Linked DNA regions of Homo sapiens. The protein of the gene in region 1 interacts with the protein of each later gene in a pairwise test. Each region holds a gene or a part of one and is shown in the gene's direction. Other genes may lie near its edges.

Evidence for each region. Proteins that work in one complex are often made in the same cells at the same time.
Region 2: the proteins of TRIM35 (region 1) and NRF1 interact in binary tests that used the Homo sapiens proteins (3 or more experiments, as listed by UniProt).

The regions. Positions count from the first base shown.
Region 1 is NC_000008.11:27,300,578-27,305,693, reverse strand, and holds part of TRIM35 (E3 ubiquitin-protein ligase TRIM35), read left to right. Parts: intron 1-850; exon of another isoform or gene 851-933; intron 934-5,116. UniProt on the Homo sapiens protein: E3 ubiquitin-protein ligase that participates in multiple biological processes including cell death, glucose metabolism, and in particular, the innate immune response.
Region 2 is NC_000007.14:129,618,220-129,621,719, forward strand, and holds part of NRF1 (nuclear respiratory factor 1), read left to right. Parts: intron 1-3,500. UniProt on the Homo sapiens protein: Transcription factor that activates the expression of the EIF2S1 (EIF2-alpha) gene. Links the transcriptional modulation of key metabolic genes to cellular growth and development.

The DNA.
Region 1 (5,116 bases):
TGCCACCAGCCTCTCCCTGTCCCAGCTCCAGCCCTCTCTCCCCTTCTGGCGTCAACATCTTAGAGTCCATCTGGCTGGATCTAACCCAAGGGTACTCTCGATACCTCTTAAGCCACATTCCAGGTCTTCCCCCTTCCAATGCTTTTCCCCATTTCCTAACCACTCACCCCCATCCTGATCCCCAGCTTCTAGGTGAGGACTTACCAGCTCTTTGGTTGCACCAGAGGACATTGTTGCTTGCTTGCTTGTCCAGGCCTGTGCCCAGTGGTATTGGGAGTGGGGGGTGTCTCACTAGACCCTGCACACTGAGGCTCCTGAGTGATGGCCTCCAGCAGTGGGCTGCATGGCAGACACTTGCTTTGGAAGGAGGTCTGAACACAAAGGGGAAAGACAGATCTGGGAGACTGATTTGGAGTTGCATAAGAAAGCTCCATGCATTTTTACTGTTCATTTAAGAAACCTGGACCATATCCAGCAGGACAGTTAGGTTACCTGGCATGTAGGTGGCACTTAAGAGCTATGCCGAATGCACAGCATGTGCCTGCCACTCTCATGTAAGCATCTTATAGGGATTGATTTGTGGAGTCCTCACAGCAGTCCTTTGAGCTTGGTAGTATTTTTTATCCCTCTTATCCAGATGAGGAAATGGAGGTGCAGAGAAGTGAAGGAACATGTTCAAGATCACCTGCTACTAGGTAGAGGTGCTGGGATTTGAACCTGGTCGGCCAGGTGCCAGAACTCTTGGCTGCTACATCAATCTGCCTGAAAACAAATCGTGAAATTTGGGAGACTGTAGAGACTTCTCTGCTTTCATTTTTAAGGTGAGGAGCCTGATAGCCGAAGAGAGAAGGAACTTTTTACCAACTCACCAGTGGATAGTGACAAAGACAAGGCTCCAAACCAGCTCTCCTAACCTTCAGTCCAGGAGGCAAGGTATATAGCAGAAAAAACACAGGCATTCCATGTACTCATTGACTGGGCAGGTGGTTAACTGAACATCTACTTTGTGCAGGGACTTGGACATGCAGGGGACAAAACAAAGTCTCTCACCTTGCAGAGCAAGCATTCCTTCTGCAGAAGTGTACCGAGCACCACTATGCAAGGTAGAGAGGACCTGGAGGTTAAGACCTGCCCTCAGGAAAGAGAAGCTATTACCCTGGATAGTGAGTGCTGAGACAGAGGTGGCCAGGGTGCTGTGATGCCCTGGAATGGAACCTGAGCTGGCAAGATCGGGGGGCTTCCTGGAGGAAATGAGGGGTACTAGAGCCGAGTTTTCAAGGTGATGTTGGGTTAGTTGGGGGAAGCAGGTGGGAACCAGGCAGAGCAACAGTGTGTATCAAGTCTCACAAGACAGAAAACCTGGCTCAGGCCAGACAGAGCTGGTTTCACATGCAACTCTAGCACTTTGGTAAGTCCTTGCAAAGAGGCTATGAAGACCTTGTGCAATGAAATTCATTCTTTCCCTTGCCCCTACCTTCCTGCTTCCAGCTATACCACAGAGCACCTGTCCTGTTAATGAAAATTGTGGGTAACGTGATTTTGTAAAGTGCTTAAGATCTTCAATATGCAATTGAAATTTGTTGCTTAAGGAATCAACTTGTCATTTTTGGGAAATCATGTAGTCTATATGATCACATTCTGGATCCTTTAGTATGAATAAAAACCTATTTTGTGTGTGTTTATAACTAATCTTTAACGTAGGCTGGACGCGGTGGCTCATGCCTGTAATCCCAGCATTTTGGGATGCCGAGGCGGGCGGATCACCTGAGATCAGGAGTTCAAGACCAGCCTGGCCAACATGGTGAAACCCTGTCTCTACTAAAAATACAAAAATTAGTTGGGCATGGCGGCAGGCACTTGTAATCCTAGCTACTTGGGAGGCTGAGGCAAGAGAATTGCTTGAATCTGGGAGACAGAGGTTGCAGTGAGCCGAGATTGCGCCACTGCACTCTAGCCTGGACAAGAAGAATGAGACTCTATCTCAAAAAAGTAAAAAATATAAAATAAATAAATAAAAAATCTTAATGTTATAATGTGATGCTAACATCGAAGCTTGTTTGCTCTCCTGAGCTTGGGCTGGGGGATGCTCCAGATCTGTTGTGGGCCCCTGCTACTGCCCATCTCTGCTCATTCATGTGCTCCTTGGGCTACAGGCAGGCCCCTTGAGTGGTAGTTCTATTTGTAATCTAAGCATATTTAGGGTTAAAATTAATACCAAAAGCAAACAAAATAATATTGTTTAGATGCATTCAAATTCACACTTCTTACATGTCATATTTCCTAGGTGAACCACTAGATGCACAGAAGGGGAAAATGGAATAAAAAATGTGTAGTAAATTTTAAAAAAGGAAAGGAAGAAAAAGAAAAATAGAATAAGCAAGACAAATAGCTCAGAACAAGGTGGCAGATTTAAATGCAAACATATCGGTAATTATGTGTTAAATACTCCAGTTAAATGAAAATGTTGATCTGACTGGATAAGAAAACGAAACCTAATTCTGTGTTGCTTAATATAATTATCTCAGTGAGAAAACATTTGATAAAATTTACCATCTTTTTGTGTTTAAAAAAACAGGAAACTAGAAATGGAAGGAATTTCATTAGTTTGATTAAGTATATCTAGCAAAAAAACTTACAGCAAATATCACATTTAATGGCAAAACATTGAAAGCTTTCTTATTGAGATCAAGAAAAAGACAGGAATGCGCATTATGACCAACTCTATTCAGTTTTGTGTGGGATAGCCTTGTCAATGAAGTAAGCCAATAATTATAAATAAAAGATGTAAGGTTTGGAAAGAAGGGAAGCAAAACTGGCATGTGTAGATAATATGGTTGCATATTTTTGCACTGAGATTTCTATGTGTAGAAAATAAAGATTCTACAGTTAAATCATAAGTATTAATAAGTTTAGGTGAATGCTGAATCCAAAATCAAGATGCAAAACCAGTTGTATTTCTATGTATCACTAGCAAATAGAAAATAAAATATAGGCAGGGAGTTTTACACCTGTAATCCCAGCACTTTGGGAGGCTGAGGCAGGAGGATCGTTTGAGCCAAGGAGTTTCAGACCAGCTTGCACAACATAGTCCAGCCTGTCTCTACAAAAAGTTAAAACAAATTAGCCAGGTGTGGTGGTGCATGCTTGTAGTCCCAGCTACTTGGGAGGCTGAGGTGGTGGGAGGATCACTTGAGCACAGGAGGCTGCAGTGAGCTATGATTGTGCTACTACTGCACTGCAGCCTGGGTGACAGAGGGGGACCCTGTTTTGGGTTTTTTTAATTTAAAAATATGTTTACAATAATATAAAAAATAAGATAACTAGGAAGAAATTAATAAAAGATACGCAAAACTCTGATAGGGAAAAATATACTTCGTTGAGAGCTATCAAAGAACATTAAGTAACTGGTGTGATATATTATGTTCGTGGATTAGTAAAGTCAGTATTTAAGCCTTTCAGTTTTCCCCAAATTGATCTATAGAGACAATATTGTACTAATCTAAATCTCAACATGATTATTTTTATGCAACTTCACAGATTCTAAAATTTATATGACCCTCAAAGGGCCAAAAATTGCCAAGACATTCTTGAAGAGAAACCTATCAGAAATCCTCTCTTTTTTACAGCTATAGAAATTATGGCTGTGTGATGTTGGCACAAGGATAAACAGATGGGCCAGAGAAACAGATGGAGAGAACCAAAAAACAGATCTGTGTCTGATTTAAGACAGAGGTGGCTCTGCAGACCAGTGGGCAGTAATGGTCTTTTTAAATAATGGTGCTGAGACAATGAGCTACCTGGTCACACCATGTGCAAAAATAAACTCCAGGTATCCACATCAGACCTAAATGTGAAAGGAAAGCTATAAAGCTTTGAGAAAATACTACAGAGCTATACAATAATAATGCAAAGCTATAAAGCTTTGAGGAAATAATACGATTGTTTTTGTGATCTCAGTGTAGGGAGGTGTTTCTTAAAACTAGTATACTAATCCTAAAGGAAAAGACTAATAAATTTGGCCATATTTCAATTAAGAAAGATAAATGATGAAGTAGAAAATATTCATTACACCTCTAACTAATCAAGGACATACATTGTGTATATATAATAAATTCCCACAAACCAGTTAGGAAAATGGCAGGCAACGCAATGGAAAAATGGACAATACTTTACTGAGTACTTAAAAATAAACATTGAAGTGGTCAATAAACATTTTCTATTAACATTGCTCTTGCTGTAAAAATTGGTACCACTGCTTTGGAAAACAATTTGGCATTACGCAGTAAAGTGAAGACACATATGGTGGCCCAGCAGTTTTATCCCCAGGAATATATTATGAAGAAACGAGTTCCCATGTGTCCCCAGGAGACATGTACAAGAAGGTTACCTCCTCTGGGTCTAACTTGATCCTCTGTATAATGGGACTCACAGTGCTTAACCTTATAGGGAGAATTCGAATTAAATAATTGAATTAAATAGAATGTTTGTAAAGTGCATAATTTAGTGCCTTGTGTCTAGTACATGCTTAATAGTAACTGCTTGCTAGCAATAGTAATATAATTGTTGGTTAGTCTCATCAGCTGACATCTCAGAGAAGGGCCATTTTAGGATTGGTCTTTTCTGAAGGAAACCAGAACTCTCCAAGTGATTGAAAAGTTTGAGAAGATCAAGGGACTATCCCCTTCCCATCCTTATTGTCCCATAAATTCCTAAGGGCCAGGGTTGAAGGGCAGGGGCTGAACTGTGTTGTTTTGGGGCCTGCACACCTTTGGGTAATGCGTATGGACAGCTGCTTCACTCCTGTCACTTAACTAATTTGGCAAATCACTAAATTTTCCTTTTGAACTGTATTACATGATTTTGTATCAAAAATCTCATTCTATAAAATAAAACATTGGAATGACATTTCAGTGGTTTTGTGGGGGCACTCATGCAAATTAGAGATGATATACTACAGAAAACAAAGTTTAAAAATCTTAAATATTGTCACTTAAGATTAAAAGATCAAAATGAGTTGAAAATAAAACAGAACTGCAGAAAATGAAATCAGTAACCATTTTGTTTTCTGTAGTGAAAGACTTAAAGGAATGGGCTACTGAGTGGGACAAATGGGCTA
Region 2 (3,500 bases), on another chromosome or scaffold:
AAGATAGGGAATGTATAGGAAGAACAGAATTTGAGGAGGAAGGTAATAGAGTATGACTCCAGATGTGTTAAGATATCTGGGAATCAAGAAAGGTCAAGTAAGTACCTGGGTATTTGGGCTGGAGCTCAAGGGGACATTGGGATAAATTAGGGGATTTGCATTCATCAGTATAATGCCATATAGAAACTGCAGAAAGCCAGGCATGGTGCCTCACACCTGTAATCCTAACACTTTAGGAGGCCAAGGCAGAGGATCACTTAAGGCCAGGAGTTCAAAACCAGTCTGGGCAACGTTGTGAGACCCTGTTTCTACAAAAATTTAAAAAATTTGTCAGGTATAGTGGTAGCCACCTGTGGTCTCAGCTACTCGGGAGGCTGAGGCTGGAGTATGACTTGAGCCCAGGAGTTTGAGGCTGTAGCAAGCTATGATAGGGCCACTGCACTCCAGCTTGGGTGTCAGTGTAAGACCCTGTCTATAAAAAAGAAAGAGAAAATAGTACAGATTGAGTATCCTTTATCCAAAATGCTTAGGACCAGAAATGTTTTGGAGTTTTTTTTGACTTTGTAATGTTGGTATGCATATAATGAGATACCCTGGAGATAGGGCCCAAGTCTAAACTTGAAATTCATTTGTGTTTCATATACATCTTACAACCTGGATGCAGTTTTATACAATATTTTAAATAATTTTGTGCAGGAAACAAAGTTTTGATTCCATTCTGACTGCAACATGTCACCTGAGGTCAGGTGTGGAATTTTCCACTTGTGGCATCATGTCAACACTCAGAAAGTTTCAGATTTTGGAGCATTTCAGATTTTAAACTTTTGGATTAGGAATGCTTAACCATATCAGGAGTGAAGAAAAAAAACTAAGGGCAACCTTGAAGAGCATCTACATCTGAGGGTCAAGTAGAAGAATAGAAACCTATGAAGTAAGTTGAGAAAGAATGGCTAAACAGATAAGGTTATAGGGTTGAAGAAGCTGAAGAGAGGGATTAAGTGAATACTGACAGGGAAGTTAGCCGTGTGAAATACCACAGAGTTCATTGGTTTGGAGGGCAATGCCGGAGGATCGCTTGAACCCAGCACTTCAAGACCAGCCTGAGCAACATAGCAAGACCTCGTATCTATTAAAAAAAAAAAAATCATTGGGATAAAAACTGGACTTGGCATACGTGTATATATATATATATATATATATATATATATATATATACACACACACACACATATATATACACGTGTGTGTGTGTGTGTGTGTGTGTGTGTGTGTATATATATATATATATATATATGTATTGTTTTGCTGGGAACCATGATAGTTTAGACAGAATAGATTTCTAGAGCATTACTAAATTCAGGGGTAGGTCCTACAGAATCTAACTTAGTAGAAGACCCATGCTTAGAAATAGGTCCTGTTCTTCCATGTCTCTCTGCAATGGGAGTTGCAGCTTAAATGCTTTGGGAGATGACCCCCAATGACAAGGCTGCCTAAAAATCTCCATATTGTTTGGGTTGTTTTTTTTTTTTTTTGCCTCTTTTACATTGTCTTAAATTCTGAGAATTGGAGATTTCATTTGAGTTGACAGTGTCTTAAAATACAAATAACCTCTTGCAGAGTTTTGAGGTTTTATGATATTAATATGTTAAGTATGGGGGTTTTTAACCTGGGGTTTTCTGGTTCTGGGGTTTATATATTTTGGCTGTGTGACCCTGAATCCCTTAAAATTGTTTGAAAAGTTATGTGTGAGTGCATGTGTGATTTTTCTGGGGAGAGGGTCCACAACATTTATGAGATTTTTCAAGGGGGCTGTTGACACACAGAAAAGTCAAGGGCCTTTACTAAATGTTAATGATTAAATCAAGTGTTGGTTGTGTTCGTTGGCTGAAATCAGTTATCTCAACAAGTGAGACAGATCAAGGGAAAGAAATCTTGAGTAGGTGTCTCAGGTGAAGAACTTTGGAAAGATACGAGGAACTTCTTAGAAATGGGAGTAGGAGCACCAGAAGGAAGGTAGGAGGAATGCCAAAGCAAAGCTTAACCGATTTCAGAATTTTGTCAAGTCTCTGGATTGCTTGGTTTTTTTATACTCTAGGACTGACACTTAGTATATGTTTATTCATGCACTGTAGATACAGTAGGCTTTATGGGGTAGGGGAATCAAATCACTTTTTTTTTTTTTTTTTTGAGATAGAGTCTCGCTTTGTCACCCAGACTGGAGTGCAGTGGTATGATCTTGGCTGACTGCAACCTCCGCCTCCCGGGTTCAAGCGATTCTTCTGCCTCAGCCTCCCAAGCAGCTGGGATTACAGGCGCCTGCCACCATGCCCAGCTAATTTTTTATTTTTAGTAGAGATGGGATTTCACCATATTGGACAGGCTGGTCTTGAATTCCTGACCTTGTGATCCGCCCGCCTTGGCCTCCCAAAGTGCTGGGATTACAGGCATGAGCCACCGCACTGGGCCCAAATTACTATTGTTTTAAAGGGAAAGTGTTTTGAAAGAAAACAAATTGATAGATTGTGCTTGTTGGAAAAAAATTTTTCTACCAAGCTGGCTCATCTGTCAGAAAAAATTCATTTTTAAGTTAGGTGTTGCTTATGCTTTGGAAAAAATTTTAAATGCACAAATATTTCAGTCTAGTGATATGGGGCAAGACATTTATTTTCTCCTTGCAAATTTTTTCTGACCATGAAATGAAAATACCGTTGATGGTTTTTGTAGTGTCTTTCTGAAATATGACGATTATGGAATACTTTGAGATCCAGGATGATTTAATGCTAAGAAATTGCTGGCATTCACATTTCTAAAGTCGTGAATAAAATTAAGAAATTCAAGCACATTATGTGTTCACTAGATCTTACTTGATTTCCAAAATATTTCTTTTTGAAATTTTAGATAATTGGTAATTTTTACTTCCTTCTGCTAATCTTTGCATCTTTGAAATTAGATTAGGAGGCAGTTTTGTCAGCTAGGCCCTAGTTTCTGGGGCAGTGATATCCATACTTTTGCTTGCCACCCTCAAAATAAATTAATGCCACTTGGGATTAATTTGTGATTTTTCTGGGGAGAGGGTCTACAACTTTTATTTATTTTACCAGTAGTCTTGGTAAATACAAGAATGATATGAATAAATATGTTGGGTAATCTTAAACTTGTGTTATGTGATTTGTAATTAGCTTGTGTTTGTGGATGATCTTTACATTCAGTAAATCTCCAAAGAGGGCCCAGATAGAATGGAGTATTTTGTCTTTTCCTTTGGGAACTTTTTTTGGTTCTTTCTTTCATTAAACAATTATGAAATAAAATTTTTGGTAACAGATCTTCCATGTAAAAATAGCCCACAAATCAAAGAACTAGCCAAGATTTGCTAAGTAAGAACACATCATGGAATACCATCATAGAACTAGTCTCTTACCCCAAAACTAGCTGTAGGTGCTAAGTCTAAAGAAGAAGTAATTCTGATATGTTACCAGAATTATGTGGTAATGCGACTGAGT